4 separate regions of the Homo sapiens genome follow, and regions 1, 2 and 3 are each reported to be linked to region 4. The links are microRNA targets in miRTarBase. Many come from high-throughput screens and were not tested one by one. Region 4 holds a microRNA gene; each other region holds the end of a gene's coding sequence.
What was found. Region 4 holds the annotated microRNA hsa-miR-4277 (GCAGUUCUGAGCACAGUACAC, at 2,033-2,053, shown strand). A microRNA usually pairs through its seed, bases 2 to 8, with sites in the 3' UTR of a target mRNA and lowers its output. Matches are read on the target gene's strand: a 7mer-m8 pairs with bases 2 to 8, a 7mer-A1 pairs with bases 2 to 7 and ends in A, and an 8mer does both.

Region 1: miRTarBase lists C1orf50 as a target of hsa-miR-4277. Seed matches in the 3' UTR shown: 7mer-m8 at 3,242-3,248 and 7mer-A1 at 2,504-2,510.
Region 2: the mRNA of SYT2 is a reported target of hsa-miR-4277. The part of its 3' UTR that is shown has no 7-base or 8-base seed match.
Region 3: the mRNA of ZNF592 is a reported target of hsa-miR-4277. Seed matches in the 3' UTR shown: 7mer-m8 at 2,657-2,663.

Annotation. Positions count from the first base shown.
Region 1 is chr1:42,774,687-42,778,991 of GRCh38, reverse strand. It overlaps C1orf50 (chromosome 1 open reading frame 50), which reads right to left. Exons shown (of 5, transcript NM_024097.4): 4 at 4,124-4,255; 5 at 1-3,783. The coding sequence ends at 3,598. TMEM269-DT (TMEM269 divergent transcript) reads left to right here. Exons shown (of 4, transcript NR_133055.2): 3 at 2,168-2,328; 4 at 2,823-3,179. Among named protein-coding and RNA genes, the nearest start is that of TMEM269-DT, 8.1 kb to the left of the region's middle.
Region 2 is chr1:202,592,784-202,597,164 of GRCh38, reverse strand. It overlaps SYT2 (synaptotagmin 2), which reads left to right. Exons shown (of 9, transcript NM_177402.5): 9 at 202-4,381. The coding sequence ends at 408. Among named protein-coding and RNA genes, the nearest start is that of SYT2, 120 kb to the left of the region's middle.
Region 3 is chr15:84,802,083-84,806,421 of GRCh38, reverse strand. ZNF592 (zinc finger protein 592) reads right to left here. Exons shown (of 11, transcript NM_014630.3): 11 at 1-4,339. The coding sequence ends at 4,029. Among named protein-coding and RNA genes, the nearest start is that of ALPK3, 13 kb to the left of the region's middle. RefSeq lists enhancers at 1,779-2,278, 2,279-2,780.
Region 4 is chr5:1,706,510-1,710,890 of GRCh38, reverse strand. MIR4277 (microRNA 4277) reads left to right here and starts at 2,023; the gene lies at 2,023-2,106. The region is part of intron 3 of LOC105374614 (a long non-coding RNA gene); the gene reads left to right. RefSeq lists enhancers at 343-906, 907-1,471, 1,472-2,035, 2,756-3,255, 3,256-3,757 and a silencer at 1,999-2,154.

The sequences.
Region 1 (4,305 bases), not on the chromosome of region 4:
GGGGGGGGGGGGGGGGGAAGTACACCTTGTAATTGGTGAAATACAGGCCCTCTCATTCTACTACTGCTTAATTCAGACTCCCATCATCCCTTGCCTTGATTAGGGATGGAATCTCCTGTCTTCCCTCTACCCAAACTCTGCTGCCAATATTACCAGCCTCCCCAAATCCTTCCATTAGTTCTTCTCTCATATTCCCCAGTCCATATTCTCCTGTTTAACTGGCTGCGATTCCCCAAATGTCGTGTCAATTCTGGTCAATGTCCCTTCCATGTTATTTTTTGTCTGGAATGTTTTTTCCTCCCTGTCTTCAACTATCTCCTAGCTTTTAAACACAAGGATTTTCTAGCCAGGACATATCTCACTCCACCCCTCCTCATTGCCAGGACTGCTTTGGTTGATATGGCTTAAATGGTTGTCACTTTCTTCATTCACAAATAAACTCCATCCAAAAATGAACCCTACCCCAACCCCCAAAAGACAAACTTCCTATGAAAGGGCAATTGGAGCCTCCAGAAAGTTCTAACTTGTATGGTTTTCAACACCAAGCAGGCATCAGCTCCTCCAAGTGTCTTCCCAAATTCTCCAAGCTCAGTAAGGAACCCCTCCCCGGAGCTCCATAGTATTCCATGCGTACCTCTATCACACCCCTTCTTAGAGCATCTTGTAATTGTTAACTTGTTTCCTTCCCTACTATACTGTGAGCTCCCTGGAAATTGTGATTTCTTATTCAGCTCCATTATTCACCAGAACCTGGAACCTAGAAGGCACTTAACACTAATGAAATTATCAGGTGAACAGATGGATGGGTAAATGAAAAGTGATTACTGTATATAATCACTGGGTCCTAGTTTCCCATTCTGAGGTGCCCCAAATCACCTCACATTGCCACTAGCCCTTCCCAAGTGTGGTAACTGGCTTAACCAGGAAAGAGCAATGACACCCCTTGGTGGTCAGTGCAGGGAGTACATCTTACTGAACAGAAGGCAGTTTCTCTCTTTTCAATCACTACTCTCCCACTCTTTAGGTTAGGAAATGTCAAGAGTGAGGGAGATTTGGCATTTTCAAATGATCAAGCTGATGACTGCATGCAGAATGGATTGGAGAGGGGACAGAGGGGGAAGCAGGGATGCCAGCTGGGAGGCTGTCTTGTCAGAGTTGACAGTCAAGTGCAGATCTGTGACTTTGACATCATCACACTTAACCACTTAGTAATATTGCCTTTTTTACCTAGAATTTTCCTTTCTTCTTCTCAACTGAGCACTGTGGCAGATAGATTCTAGGATCTGTTCAATGATTCAATGATGTCTGCCTTCTGGTATACATGCCTTTGTATAACTCCCTCCCTTGAATATGGGCTAGCCTAGTGACTTGCTTCCAACCAAAAGATTACGGCAAAGGTGATGAAATGTCACTTCTGTGATCAGACTACATGAGACTGTAACTTCCATCTGGCTAGCAGACTCTAATCCTTGTTTACTTTGCTTAAGAAAGCTGCCATGTTATAGAGGCTCGTGTGGCAAGGAAGTGAGGGCAACCTCCAGCCAACAGTCAGCTAGTGGAACCCCGGAAGCCAGCAACCCTTGTGGAATTGAAATTCTGCCAACAGGCCAGGTATGGTGGCTCAAACGCCAGCACTGTGGGAGGCTGAGGCAGGTGGATCATGAGGTCAAGAGATAGAGACCCTCCTGGCCAACATGGTGAAACCCTGTCTCTACTAAAAATAAAAAAATTAGCTGGGCATGGTGGCGTGCGCCTGTAATCTCAGCTACTGAGGAGGCTGAGGCAGGAGAATCACTTGAACCAGGAGGCGGAGGTTGCGGTAAGCTGAGATTGAGCCACTGTACTCAGGCCTGGCAATACAGCGAGACTCTGTCTCAAAAAAAAAGAAAGGAAAGAAAAGAAATTCTGCTAACAATTTAAGTGAGCTTGGAAGCAGATCCTTCCCCACTCAGGCCTTCAGATAAGAACAGCCCTGACCAATAACTTGATTTCAGCCTTCCAGGGTTTCAGAGAAACTGTGAAGCAGAGGACTCAATGAAATGGTGCCTGAACTCCTAACCTGTAAGCTCTGAAATAAATAGGTGTTGCTTTAAACCATTAAGTTTGCAGTAATTTGTTTATCTGTAACTAATAAAGCACCTATTCAAAATGTGTCATCATCATGCAGGTCAGAACCTTCTGAAAACCTGGGAAACTTTCTGTAGTCAGAATCCACTACTCTACCACTAATGTCTCTTCCATCCGGCTCTGCAGCACCTGAGCAAAAGACCTCTGCAGCTGAGTCCAAAGAGCATTCCCATGTGAACCGAGCAACCAAGTATCATCGGAGTGAGTTTGTTAGATTCTAGCCCCATCCTGTGCTAGGCCTTAGGTAGACCTCTTACAGCTCACAAGAAATGCAGTTTATGAGGAAAGACCATGAATCGGGGGGCGGCCCGGGGAGGGTATTACCAAACAGATCAGCATCAGGAACATCATTCCCAGAGAGAAATTTGGCCAATTGTCAGTTCAAGTACACATCTCTCCCTCCTTTTACAGCATATTGCAATAGATTATAGCCATGCGAAATAATCCATAAACTTAGCTAATTCCACCAAACAGATAGGAAAGAAGGTAGAGTCCTACAAGAGCCTAGTCAGAATAAGAACTACAGTAATTTTGCCAAAACCCTGTTAAGTTCTTGAATAATTCTGGTCAAAATGGATTTCAATCTGAGTTAACTCACAGTCAACAATTTGGCTGTTTTTCTTGCTTCTCACTCTACTGCCTTACTCTCTTCCACAGTGTTAAGTAGCCATTTAAATGGGTTTGTTCTGCTGCAGGTGGCTGAGCCTGGGATTTCCAACTTGGGAGACTACACAGTGGACTCTATAATGATTAGTGGCAGCATCCAATGTCTCTTCCAAGTCTAAAATTTGTGAGTTTCAAAGTTGACTCTCCCCAAACCTGGCCTTTGCTGCCTCAGATTCTGTCACTCTAGCAAGGCAGAGAGAGCAAAAGGGGCAAGACAAACCTCATCAACAGCACAGAAATCCCAGAATCACACACTCTCTGGTCCAGCCAAGCCAAGTGTTTTTTTTTTTGTTGTTGTTGTTGTTTTTTAAATCACCCTCCATTACTCAACATTCTCGTTCCCAGATGAATTTTAAACTGGAGTTGCACCAACTGTGAGACAGCCTCAACCCCAATGTTAAATACTACCAGTTATATATATATATATATATATATAAAAGACTGAAAACAGTTCTCTCTGGAAAACGATCCACCAACCTTTTTATGGGAAGAAGGTCTTCTCTAACACTTTAACTTAAGGGAAGAAGTGATGGAGAGGAAGAAGGAAAGTACACTGGCCAATACTCTGAAACTGACTGACTTGGGTATCTGTGGTCCAAAGAGGATCCCGAAAGACAGTGACTCTGTCTCAATGATTATTCCCATCCCAATTAAAAGTCATAATGACAGCATTTACATTCACACAGGGTCTCTTTCCAAGAAGTTTGTGAGTCACCTACATGTCTTCAATTCTCAAGGCAACAGTGGGGGCAACAAGGAGGTTGACAGCCAGGTCCTGTGAGAGCTGTTTGTCAAAGCCCACTCTCAGTGAGTCAGTCCCTGGAAGTTGGGTTCAGTGCACGGAGGCAGGGCCACTGACTGGCTTAGCAACGTGTCCATCATGCTGATTTTAGCATCTTGCTTCTCAATGTCCTCATACGGAGTCCAGGACAAGTCATGCTGTAGTTTGTAGGCACCAAGGAAGTCATGTGGACAACTTGTCCCCCATTCCTAGAGAAGGCAAAGGAGGCAGTTCCCATCAGCGTGGGTTGTAAACAAACTGAGCTCATTTCCTAATCATGCCACAATCTCTTTTTTGGCTTTTCACTTCATACTAGTCAGAACAACCTTTGGAACGCAGTTACCTTACACATCAGATCCCTCCCTTAATGAAGAAAATGAGTGAAATAATTTAAGCACAGGTATATTTTTTAGAGTCATGTCTGGGCTCACATCACCCCCAATTTTCTAAGAAACCATATACCAATCCACATGTCTACATTTTCACACATATACCAAGAATTTCTCAGAGGCTGGAGTAGATTTTTGGGCAAACAATGTATGTTCTTACCTTTGGAGAAATGATGGAAAAATACTGCTGACCACTCTCCCGTTTATAGAGATAGTAAATGTTGCCAGGTTTTTTCACTATATTACAAGCTACATGGTGCAGGTTGGCATCTCTGTGAGCATCTTCCAGTACCTATGAATCACAGATATGTAACAAATTAGGTATTGGAGATAACAGGCACC
Region 2 (4,381 bases), not on the chromosome of region 4:
CCAGTGGTAGAAACAAAGGCTGCCAAAGGCGTGGCCTCTGCCTCCATGTCAATTCAGTCTTCACTGGAGCAGAGATGAAACCAAGGAGCCCCAGGAGGCCTTACCTTCCCAATCATTGGGAGTAGAGGTTGATGGAGGATAAATTTGGTCATGGGATCCCACGTCTCTGTCTGCCAACTCCCTCCCTCGTTTTCCTTGCAGAAAGTCCAGGTAGTGGTCACCGTGCTGGACTATGACAAGCTGGGCAAGAACGAAGCCATAGGCAAGATCTTCGTGGGCAGCAATGCCACGGGCACAGAGCTGCGGCACTGGTCCGACATGCTGGCCAACCCCCGGAGGCCCATCGCCCAGTGGCACTCGCTCAAGCCTGAGGAGGAGGTGGATGCACTCCTGGGCAAGAACAAGTAGACAGCAGCGGCTGGGACCCCACACCTTTCACGGACACTGACAAGATCCAGAGCTATCAATACCTCAGTTATGCAACCTTAGAGGTTTTCTTTTTTCTTTCATTTGTTGGGTGGTTGTGTCCTTGTTTTTCCTTGTTTTTCTCTTTTTAAAGACCAACTTCCCTTTGATGGCTGTGTGAGGAGAGTCCCCTAAGAGGTGAAAGAGAAGCCTGGCTCTGTTCACGGTCCCAGGAGCTGTCCTTGCTGCATGCCCTGTCACAGTTCCCTCGACTCTTTCAAAGCTTCACATCTGCCTCACCCCAAGCGAGGCTCTCTACTGGCACAAACTTGCAGCAGTTCCTGTTTTTTGAGCCTTCTGGACCAACAAAATGGCAGCACATCCTGCTTCCTGACAGGGAAGGCATCACAGTGGCCAATGATCGTGTGTGTGTGTGTGTGTGTGTGTGTGTATGTGTGTGTGTGTGTGTGTGTGTGTGTGTGTGTGTGTGTCTTTGAGCATTTCTCTTCATTCCTGGAATGTGTGTGTGTGTGTGTCTCTTTGAGCATCTCTCTTCATTCCTGGAATGAGCCATGGACAGTAAAGTTGTGTGGGAAAAGAAGGCTCTTTGGGGACCCTGACATGAAGAAGTCCACTAAGTGGGAGATCTTCTCTCATCTATGGCAAAGTCTCAGGATCCTGTTCAGATATCGGGGCTTTCATACTCCTGTTGGTGGCTATTTGGGAGGCAGCAAGATGTGAAGACTGGATGTGTTCAGAACTAGGACCAAACGATGCCATCAAATACTTCCTCCTGCCAGTCATGGTTTCCCCAGAAGTGTAGTTCCTGGGACATTCATGGATATGAGCTATTCACTAGTTGGGTCAGACTAACAGGGACTCTCAGTCCCAAAATCTCACTCTTATTGACAATAAATATCAAACTATGAAGAAACAGAAGTCCCATTACCAGAAAGACCAAAATTAAACTCCTGGATCTTCACCCCATCCAGTGGGAAACACAGATGCTTTCTCCCTTTCCAGAATATAAGCAGCCAAGTTCATTTGCATTTATTCCCCATTGTGCTTTTGCTTCTGTTTCTCTTTTAAGTGGAGCAACACTGTCTGAAGACACGTTATCTGTGCAGAGCCAGAGAACTTTAAAAGGAAAGTTTAAATGTTCTTAGTTCTCCTGAGGTCCAGGTAAGAAGGGGGTGGTAAGAAGAGGATGGGGGACAGATGGCTGAGATCCCTTGGGAGGAGATATAGGGGAGCACTGGAATTCCCCCGACTCCCACTCCTTGCTCCCTTGGCCCTCTGCCCTCCATGCTGGAGAGCTGATAGGTAGCTGGAGTGGCCCAGGGAGACCTATGGGAAGGACCCGTCCTACCATTAGGGGGCTTCTCTCTATGAATGCTAAGAAACAAAGGGCATCCATTCCAAATGAGTAGCAGAGGTGACCTTCTAGGGTTTCTACCCATGCTCAGTTGTATCCCATTCCCTGTTCACCTTTTGTCCCCAGCACTGATATAAAAGCCATATATATGTTAGTCAGGTTTGCACTGAGTCTTCTTCCAATCCTTCAGCCTGGACAACAGAGTGAGGTCCCCTTGTGGCCAGAGGCCAGCCCTCCTTGCCTGCCTTCCTTTGACCTCTCTTTTCCATCCATGAAGCCCTCAGGCCCTTGCCATTTTTTCACCACAGAAAACTCATGGCTTCTCCAGAAGCCTGAGTATCTCTCTTTCCCAGCACAAATGGCAGCATCTCTATCCTGCCCCATCTGGGCCACTTCAGCTTCCTGTAGACACCCAAGACAGATGGACAGTGTTGGAGGGAATCAGGCTTTGAGGATCCAGTGTGAAGAAGTTGCAGAGTGTCTTTTTATTTTATTTTAAAAAGGGGGAAGGGGCTTTTGGTTTTGCTTTGTTTTTTGGATGAAGGAGTGAGGGAAATGAGGGAATACCCCCACCAGAAACAGACTGGAAAGCCTGCCTGTCTCTTGGAGATCCTTCTTTGTCTTGTTAGTGGTACATGGGAAGTTATGTTTTTACTGGTGTGTGTGTGTGTGTGTGTGTGTGTACTTAATGATGGGAAGGTAAGACTCTGATCAGGATTATGAACTGCGGTCCTTGGGACCAAAGGTGTGGTCATGGTAGAGAGTTGTAGGACAATAGGGTGTTTTCAGAATCTGGGTGGCCACAGAGTGGGATTTCCTGGTATGGACATCAGAAGTCACTGGACTCTTCTCCCAACCCCAGAGTTATGGGATTTTGGTGCTTTCTCAGGGTCTCTCCCCAGACTCACTCTTCTCACCCATATCCCACAGACTCACTCATGGAGACCCCCTTGTCAATATCCCCTCTACCTTTACTCCTTTGCCCTTTCCCAATTCATCTTCTACCACCTGGATTCTTTTCCATTCATGAACTTCATTCAGCCCTTCCAAAGCCCAAGATTTGCATTCCCTTGACAGGGAGGAAAGGCAATGGTAGGAACCTCTGGTGGTCTGGGTGTCTATGTGCCTGGTGACCAGGGCTGGATTTTTATTACTCTGAGCCCACTGCTAGTGAGGAGCCTTGAGGGGTGGGGACAGGTTGCTGAGTGATTTTGAACGTTGACACCAGTGTGGAGCCAGTGTGGGTGTGGGGAGCAGTGCCTTCCTCAGGTCCCAGCTGGTCCTGATATGCCACGTAGTGGATGGCATCTGTCTTGGTCCATGGGCTTGGTGGGAACATGCTTCTGCTTGTGTGTTTTCCATACCTGAGGGCTGACGTAGCTTAAACCACAGGGCATCATGCCAAACACTCACTGCTGGGCAGGTTTATTTCTGGGGATGTCAGGGTACTGGGGTGTAGGCACTAAGCAGGATAGAGTTAGGGTGTCTGGCTAGTAAGGGGTTCTGGACGCCTCTGGGGCTGTGAGTTTTCATCTCAAAGTCTGTTCCAGAGAAAGGAAAGTAGTATAGAGGTGATTTTTAGAGAAGCTGAGACCATGAAAACAAGCCTAATCCCATCCAGAAACTGGGGTAAAGTCTGAAAGTTCGTTTTCTTCTTCCTCCCTGAATAATTGTTCCAGAAGGGATGCTAACTCTGCCAGAGCTACAGGCAGATTTTTGGGCTTTGGAAGTGGAAGCTGAGGCCTGGGGAAGGCTGGGTAAGGAATGCTGGGGCAATCTCAGACAGTAGGCAGGTGCTTGGCATGAATGAGAAGTGACTTTCCTGGAGTCCCTCAGTAGAGGATGAGATAGCAGGGATTAGGCCACAGTCTCAGATCCTGATCTTTTTTCTTCCTAGGAAAGCATACATAACTTGTGTCTGCAGAATCAGTGTGGGATGATTTTGCTGGCCCAAGGCTTCAGCGAGAGGGAGAAGAGAGGTCACTACAGCCCTCCTGTGGGTAAAAGCAGCTCTCTTATAAACCTGCCTCCATGCAGTGGGGTGGGGGTAAGGGTGGGTGACAGCAAAGAGGTTGAGGAACCTCCCTGGGTTTGGGGAGTGAGAGCTTCCATGTTCCCTTAATGTCCTAGGTTAATTCATAAGGCATCTGAGTCCTGGGTCTCACCCAGCCTCACAGAGAGAAAAACTGTCCCTGAGGGTGTCCCCTCCCACTCAAAGGTAGAAAGAGATTGAGCCAGGAACTGCCCTCATATCCTCTGCTCTGCCCCTTCCCTTCCCTTTCCTCTGCCCCTCCCACCTAAAGCTGTTTGGGGCCCTTTCTCAGAGCCCTGGGTGGTGGCAGGCAGGGAGGAGTCCCAAGATCCTGGTGGCCCTGAGCCCCATGCTATGGTTGCCAGATTTGGCAAATAAAAATACAGGATGTCCAGTTACATTTGAATTTCAGTTCAACAACAAACAATTATTAAGTGTAAATATGTCCTAGGCAAATAGTTGGGACATATACTAAAAAATAATTTGTTGTTTATCTGAAATTCAAATGTAACTGGTCATCCTGCATTGTGTCTGGGAACCCTACCCTATGACTTTTCCCCCTCTCCCTT
Region 3 (4,339 bases), not on the chromosome of region 4:
TGTGCTTTTTAATTTCTCTAAAATGTTACATCATTTTCCAATAAAGAAAAAAGCATTTTAAGTAGGAACCCAAAAAAATCCCATACTTGGGACCTGCGTCCTAGTCTCAACTTTTTCCTCCAGGGGCCCAAGGCTTCCTGTGCCCAGTTCCTAAGGCTCCGGTGGCATCTGTTGGAGAAGGTGAACAGTATCCTGAACCCCTTAGTCAGGAGGACACATTCTAGAATCTAGAAGGTGCTGTCTTGGTCAGATCAGACCCTGAGAGAACAGCTGTAGCTACCAATTGAATCAGATTCATTCATTCATGCAGCATTCACTCATTCATCCATATACTTTTTGAATCACTGTTATATGCAAGGAACTTTTAAAGAATTACTCTGACCCAATGTATGAATTTGGAATAATCTCCAAAATACTATATAAGAAAGCAAGCTTCAGAACACTGTGTATAGAATTCTACTATTTGTATTAAAAATAGATATATAAATATACATATTTATAAACTTGTAAATGCATAGAATTGCTATGAAAGGATACACAACATATAGATAACAGTGATTAACTCTGGAGAGGGGACTAGAGGCTGACCTCCATGGGGAAGCTTACCATTTATTGTATACCCTTTTGTATTGTGGAATGTCTTACCATGTATATGTATTAATTTTTCAAAACAAAAAAACAAACAAACAAAAAAAGAAACTGCCTGGTGCTGAATATACAGTGGTGAACAGGACAGAGGTTCCCCAGTCTTGGGGAAGGCAAAGTGTTGAGCTTACTGGGCCACAATTATCAAATTTTTTAAAACCAGACTGTTTACATAAGTTAAGGGGAAAGTTCTTTCTACAACAATTAGCTTATAATAATTCAGCATATCATTTTACAGAGATAAAGCAGTTGGAAAATAAATACTAAGTAATTTGTCAAGTCTTAGACTGTATTAAGTTGTAGTTTCTACAAGGGAAGGGATCTTATCTGTTTAACTTGATCAGTAGAGCATTCACTGCAGCATAATGTGCAGATAAACGCTTGTTACAGCAAGCATTTTCTGATGATGACAAATGATAGCACAACCATTTAAAAAAATCTTGAAAAAGAAAAGACCAGAAGATGCTGGACTCTGAGGGAACTGTGTGTTCCCTGTGAGGGTTAGGCAACCTTTTCTAGACAGTCCTCAAAAAATGATGGTGTTCAAATGGCAAGGTAAATCCCAATGAGAATGAAAGGTTGTAGAGATACCACGTTTCGAAATGTCAACGGTGTGATGCTCGAGGCCCTCCTTGGGGTGACAAGGCACAGATGGACTCCAAAGAGAACCTGGCACTTGGCAGGGCACCCCAACTGCATGGGAAGTAGGAAAGCAAATGTCTGGGGGGCTGCAAACCACTGACAAGCTGGCAGCCTGTCAAAGCAGCCTTGGTCACTAACGAGCACAGTGGTTGACAGGCTTGACTCAGCACCATCACTACAGGTAGCCTCTGCACATCGTTTAACCTCTCGGAGCCTCGGTTTCTTCTCCGTAAAATGGAGGACAACTGTGAGATCTTTGTGAGGATTAAAGGAGAGAATCACCAGAAAGTGTTCAGTAAGATGCTAGGCACACAAGGAGGGCTTAAAATGCTATCTTCACTCTTACTAAAGAATGGCTAGGTGTCTGGGCCACTTCATAACTGCTAATCAGCATCCAAGTCCAAACAGCAGACAAAATGTGCTCCACCCTCCATGCCCTAAGGTCAAGTAAAGATTTCCCCACATTCATATAGTGTTTTATAAACTAGAAAATACTTTCACATTCATAAGCTCACAAAAGCCTGTGAAGCCAGTTGGATGGGAATTACTAACTCTATTGTGAAGGAGAGGAGACAGTGAGGTTAAGGGATTTGTTAAGAGCTGGCTAAGGACAGAATCCAGGCCAGGACCCAGGTTTTCCAGGGACTGGCTCAGCATTTTTCCAACTCACGTTCTTCCCAGGAAGGAGATGTATATCTGGGGTCACGACAGGTGGTCAAACCTGCAATTCTACCATCTCTGCCTGCTCTCCAGCTACCACTGTGTCTGAGCAGGAAGGGATCCAGCCAGTCATTTCAAACCCTTCTATCAGCCTCCTCTGGAACCCATTCCTGTGAATGGACCCAGGGTACAGGGATGGCTTCCTGTAACTAGAATTAGGCATGGGACAACAGCTACGGCAGGTCTAGGTCTGGCTTTGCAGGTAGCTGGAAACAGGCCTGGGTTGCCCCACTGCCAGCTGGGGAGGCAGGGAAGTGGCAGCCTTGCCAGGAAGAGCAATTATTAAAAGGGTGCAGACAGCGAGAGTCTCTCTGAAAGTGAGGCAACCTTTCCCACTGCCATTAGCATTTCCACTAAAAACTTGGCATTTGATAGAGGGGAAAAAATGTATTTTTTCAACTGTGAAAAGGTCAGGCATATTTATCTGACTTAATAATTTATAATTGATATTTAATGCCTCCTTGAAAGATGACCTCTAAGCACCCGGCCAGCACCCTCTTCCCTTTACTCCACTACATCCTGCTGGGCGCAACCCCATGCCACCTGGGTTAGAGGTCAGACGACACCTCCACACAGCCTGCTCCTCGTGCTTGGGTGGGCCCTGACTCCACCATCAGTGAAAAGACAGCCAGTCTCCCAAGTCTAATCCCAGTTCTGCCACATTTGAGTTCTCTGTGGCAGTAGCGATGCTGTAAGAAATAAGAAACCTCTTGAATGCTATAAGAAAATTATAAAATTCCTCTTCTCCACCCCCTTTTCCCTTTTTACCAGTAAGGGGTTCTCTTATGTTGAAAATCAACTGAAGGAAAGATGAAGGTGCCTAGAAAATTTCGATACGCCCTAAAGCCAATGTCACTAGCCTGGAGATCTTGGAGGTGACTTGACCATTGTGGAGCCGCTCCCCTCACCCCTTCAGAAGGTCTCTAGAGAACTAAGTAGTACAGGGCTCCCGGTTTCCTAACCACAAGCTCCAGAATCTAGAGAAGGCCTTCCTTAGACAGTAGGAAGTATTGTTCTCCCTCAGAGATGGGACAAACAGGGGAAGTCTGGGAAAGACCCTTGGGTGGAATAGGGTGGGGCCAGGCTCACTTGGAGAGGAATACAAGAGCCTACCTGCATGGTGAGAAGATTTTTTATTTGAAATATAGTCTGAGCAACATGAGTGTAGCCAAGAGGAGTAGGGGCTGGCCTGCCTGGGGCAGCAGCCTCTCAAATGGCACGAGAGCAGTACAAATATTCCAATGTCTGTGTGCCCCAACCCCACCTGTCAGGAAAGGCAGAACAGCAGAACAAAGACCCACCCACAGCGCCTTCTCAAGGGGTCTGGTTCTTGGTGCCTGCCTGCCTTTGCCTTACCTCCTGCTCTGCCCAGGTTCCAAACAGAGGTGTGCAGCAGAGGTTTCTCCCACCCCACCCACAGAGACATGATGAGCCAGTGTGACAATTAGTTCTCAGGACTATTTTGAGGGAAAAGAATCAGAGAAGACAGGGAGGAGGGGCAAGGTGATCAAGGGCCCTCGCCAAACCAGACTAGGCAGAGCTCTCCCAGAGGGACTGTGTCAGCACCCCTCATTTCCCTCCTTCTCAGGATCTAAAGGCAGGAAGGAGAGCTGGTGTCTGCAGGAAAATAGAGCTCTGAGGAGCGCCCTGGCTGAAGGCAGCAAGCGGGAACCTCCCAGAAGAGCACAGCCGCTGTGGGGTTCAAGCCTAGTTGACAGCAGTGGGGTTGGGCCACATAAGCAGCTTGGGGTTGGAAGGACACAGACAAGAGATGGGGCACCAAGAAGCAGCGAAAAGCCATAAATAACAGAAGCAAATTCAGAGCTGTGAGGGTCCTGGCCGACCCCACATTTCCTGGGGCTGGGGGATACCCAGCACTGGCAGCTCAGGGCAGACACTACTCCAGGGTACAACCGGTCACACTCACACTGGGGGCAGAGCCTTTTATTTTCCACGGTCCGCAGGGCAGGTGGAAGACACTTCGGCACCACCCCTGACCATGCACACTGCAAAGTCTCCGGTCACACCTGAGGGGACAGTGTGTGGCTGTCCTGGTCCTGAGAGGCCTGTGGTTGACTGTGATCATTGTGGCCACCATCGTCCTCAGGGGCCGGGCCCAGCAATCTCCTCGCCTCTGGGTCAGCTGACAAAGGCTCACCGGCACATTCTTCCAGTCCATTCTCTCTAGTCTCCATGGGCACCTCCTCCCCGGAGCCCTCCTCTGGCTCTGCCACCTCCACTGCCATCTCCGCTGCCGCCGCCTCCTCTTCCTCCTCCTCCTCCTGGTCTCTCACCTTGTGGACAATGAAGAGGTGGCGGCTGAGGGAGCTGG
Region 4 (4,381 bases):
CCCGTAGCTCAGAGTAATTTGATCGTCTGAAGCCTTCTTCTCTCAGCTCGTCAAAGTCATTCTCCATCCAGCTTTGTTCCGTTGCTGGTGAGGAACTGCATTCCTTTGGAGGAGGAGAGGCGCTCTGCTTTTTAGAGTTTCCAGTTTTTCTGTTCTGTTTTTTCCCCATCTTTGTCGTTTTATCTACTTTTGGTCTTTGATGATGGTGGTGTACAGATGGGTTTTCGGTGTGGATGTCCTTTATGTTTGTTAGTTTTCCTTCTAACAGACAGGACCCTCAGCTGCAGGTCTGTTGGAATACCCTGCCGTGTGAGGTGTCAGTGTGCCCCTGCTGGGGGGTGCCTCCCAGTTAGGCTGCTCCAGGGTCAGGGGTCAGGGACCCACTTGAGGAGGCAGTCTGCCCGTTCTCAGATCTCCAGCTGCGTGCTGGGAGAACCACTGCTCTCTTCAAAGCTGTCAGACAGGGACATTTAAGTCTGCAGAGGTTACTGCTGTCTTTTTGTTTGTCTGTGCCCTGCCCCAAGAGGTGGAGCCTACGGAGGCAGGCAGGCCTCCTTGAGCTGTGGTGGGCTCCACCCAGTTGGAGCTTCCTGGCTGCTTAGTTTACCTAATCAAGCCCGGGCAATGGCGGGCGCCCCTCCCCCAGCCTCGCTGCCGCCTTGCAGTTTGATCTCAGACTGCTGTGCTAGCAATCAGCGAGACTCCGTGGGCGTAGGACCCTCCGAGCGAGGTGCGGGAGATAGTCTCGTGGTGCGCCGTTTTTTAAGCCCGTCGGAAAAGCGCAGTATTCGGGTGGGAGTGACCCGATTTTCCAGGTGCCGTCTGTAACCCATTTCTTTGACTGGGAAAGGGAACTCCCTGACCCCTTGCGCTTCCCGAGTGAGGCAATGCCTCGCCCTGCTTCGGCTCGCGCACGGTGCGCACACACACTGACCTGCGCCCACTGTCTGGCACTCCCTAGTGAGATGAACCCGGTACCTCAGATGGAAATGCAGAAATCACCCGTCTTCTGCATCGCTCACGCTGGGAGCTGTAGACCGGAGCTGTTCCTATTGGGCCATCTTGGCTCCTCTGATTCTATACATATTCTTGAGGGTTGTCCAAGGACAACGTTGAGTTTCTTTGAAACAAGATTGAGCCTTTTGGATCTTGCTTTTAAGCTTTGTTAGGCAGAACCTGAGAGGTGAGCAATTAAGGATGAATTATTCTCCAGTACCGAGGCAACACTCTCCTGTGTGCTCTACCCAATGCGTATTCAACTTTGCCTGGCAGGAGAGGCGGCCGGCCCAGTGTGAGTGCTGGGCATTGACCTCTACTCCTTCCCAGAGCCTCCTTCCCGTTTCGTGAGTCTTTCTCTCGTGCACCGAGCAGCACTCTGTGGCCTGCTCCACCCAGACCTGTTGTGGATCCCAGGAGCTCGTGCCCCACGCCTGTCTCTTTTCTGCAAGACTCTGTAGGGCAAAGGTCACTTTCTCTCACCTCCACAGACTCTCGGCTCTGTCTCCTGCGTTCAGCCAGGCTGTGGGCCGTGCCTGGGCTCCTCTGCCTGTGTCATGGCTCAGAGATTCTCTTCAGGCAGGAAGCTGGAGAGCGTCAGGGCTCAGCTCACTTGCATGTCATCTGTCATGGGTCACTGCCCTTTGCTACCCTATGTGCAGTGTCCTGAGAGCCATTAACAGGGGAGAGACAATTGTGGCCAGATGGGACACCGTGGGATGCCAGTGTGTATGTGGTACCACTGTGGGTGCATAGGTGTGTGTTTTTGCTCTGAGTGTGTGCAGTGTGTGTGTGTGTTATGTGTATGTTATATGTTGTGGAATGTCCAGGTGTGTGGCCTACGGTGTGGGAGGGCAACACTGCAGGGGTACTTTCTGTTCATGGGAGTGGCCAGGTCTGTGCTGCTCCTGAGAGTGGGGAATGTCCAGGCAGCAGGAAGTGCCTTCCCTCCTCCTCCCCTGCGGGTCCTGCCAGTGCTTAGCAGGGAGGAGATGGGGCTGTGACTGCCCGGTCACTTGTCTGGCTCTGGGTCGAGGCAGTTCTGAGCACAGTACACTGGGCTGCCCCCACTGCCCAGTGCCCTGCTCAGCTCAAGTCCTTGTGCCCCTCCATGTCTAGACAAAGCTGCCCCTGGGCGGGCTCCAAGTGGGGGCAGGGGCCGCCTGACAGTGGGGGACAGCAGTGGTTCCACTTGACTCAGCCTGTCTCTGCCTCTTCCTGATGAAAAGCAGCCACTCTGATATCCCACTCAAGTGTGGCTGCCATCTTCCAAGGAGAGCGGGACAAGCAATTGGGTTGGGACAGCAGCAGGGGGCTGGCAAAGGGGGCTCTTTTGCTGAGTTTGGATTTCATGCCTGAAGTGCTCAGCAGAAACCACCCTCGTCCCTGTTTCATCAATCACATATGCTGCACCTCAGCATTCCAGGTGGTTAAGACCTGAGTGGAAAGTCCAGCCAGGCATTAACAAATTCATCTTCTGTGTGCGACTGCAAATTTTGGTTGTCCTTTTCTGATTGAGAGCTGGGAGATTAACCTGATTCTTCATTCCCACAAAGCTCCACAGAGAGATGCACCATGCACATAAACTCGACACACATAGCGAGTACCCAGTGCAGACACACACAACACACACAACAGTGACCAATCACATAGATATGGGCACACAACACAGGCATGTAACACACACAGACATGCCACCTGCACACAAGGCACACACACCACATAACACACATGGGCATTCCACAACACAACACATAACATACACATAACACACACACCGCACACACTCAGGGCAAAAACACACACCTGTGCACACACAGTTGTACCATGTACACATTGGCATCCCACACATGCACACTCACACACACACACACACACTTCTCGATCATGTATGCACAAAACATGGAAGGATGACAATAAAATGTGCAAACTTTGCATCTGGGAAACCCAGCTACAAGCATTAGCCCTCAAAATACCTTTGTTTTCCAAAATTATGTGCCACCGTTTCTTTTACTACAAACATTTCTTCCTGGTAAAGAGGAGAAAATAACTTCAGAAGGTACTAGGCGCTCTGGGCTGAGCTGACCAGCCCCAAGATGGGAGCAGGGGTGTCCAGGAAGGCAACAGGCCCCTGGGCCCCTGTGTGCAGACTGCACATCACCTGTACCCCTGGGGAGTGGCAGCTGGCCACATGTGTGGAGAGGCCAGGCTCAGCCCCGCCGTCCCACGGCACCCAGAAAGCCAGGTTGCAGAGGCTGGCTCCCAGGAGCACGGCCCTCCCTGGGCCCTCGGAGTTAGTACACTGTCTCCAGAAACACCAGCCCCCTGTCCCGTAGCAGAGCGGTCTCTTGCGGGTCTCAGGCCTTCCAGCCTGACTGTCCACCTTTGCAGCCAGCTCCCCTCCCTTGCCGTCTGCTAGGATGACCTCCCACATTGCAAGTGGACCACGTGGGAGCCCTTGGCCATTTGAGAGGTGGTGCTCAGTAAGAGGGCACGTCTTCACATCACTCTGAAAACTCATCGCATGGGAAATAAGGCCACATGTCTTCTCTCGCTGCCTGGTACAACACACGGCTTCACCAGTTTCAAACAATGTGTCCTGTGCTCTGAGCTTCACCTCAAGACCAACTGCACGGTGAGAAAAAGGAAGAGCCATTTGCTATGACACCACGGACAGAGGAGAGGATGTGCAGCTGCCTCCTCAGTCCTTAACCAGCGAACCTGCAGAAAAGCAGCACCTTCAGTCCAGGTGGGAGCTGGCGCAGGCAGTCAGGGTGGGAGGGAGGCACTGCCTGGACCTCTGAGCTCACACAGCCCCTCCCTCTGCAGAAAAGGTCTCCTGTGGCTTCATCTCTCACTGATGCTGAAGTACAGAGGGCTATGCCCCAGGCCTCTCAGAGCACGTGGCTAACCCCAGTTGGGGCTGTCTCCCTCTTGCACACGTGGGCCCATTGAGGGCCAGTGCCCTGTGGCTCTCTCTGGGGTCCCTTGTTCCACAAGGCACGGTGGCAGAAACCAGTGTCCAAGACCTGCATTCCATAACTCCCCAGAGGGTCTTCCACAGCCTAGTGCTCAACTCTGCACTTATGAAATTATTAAAGTGAATCAATGTGTGATTTTGCAAACCCACAGTTTCGAGGAGAGATTGAGTGATCTCTGTAGACAATTTCTTGGCGGTATCAGGGGAGAGATCGTCAGCATCAGAGAAACAGTCCGTCACCATCGAAAGGGATTCCCGCTCCTTCTCCACATCATGAGTTCTGCTAACAATGACTAAGCAATGGCAATTTGTAGTCAGCATTACAGGCTAAGATTATGAACAGGGTTAGCCTGTGTTACACACTGCAAGACTGCAAAGGGGAACGACTGTGCGTCGTTTAAATCA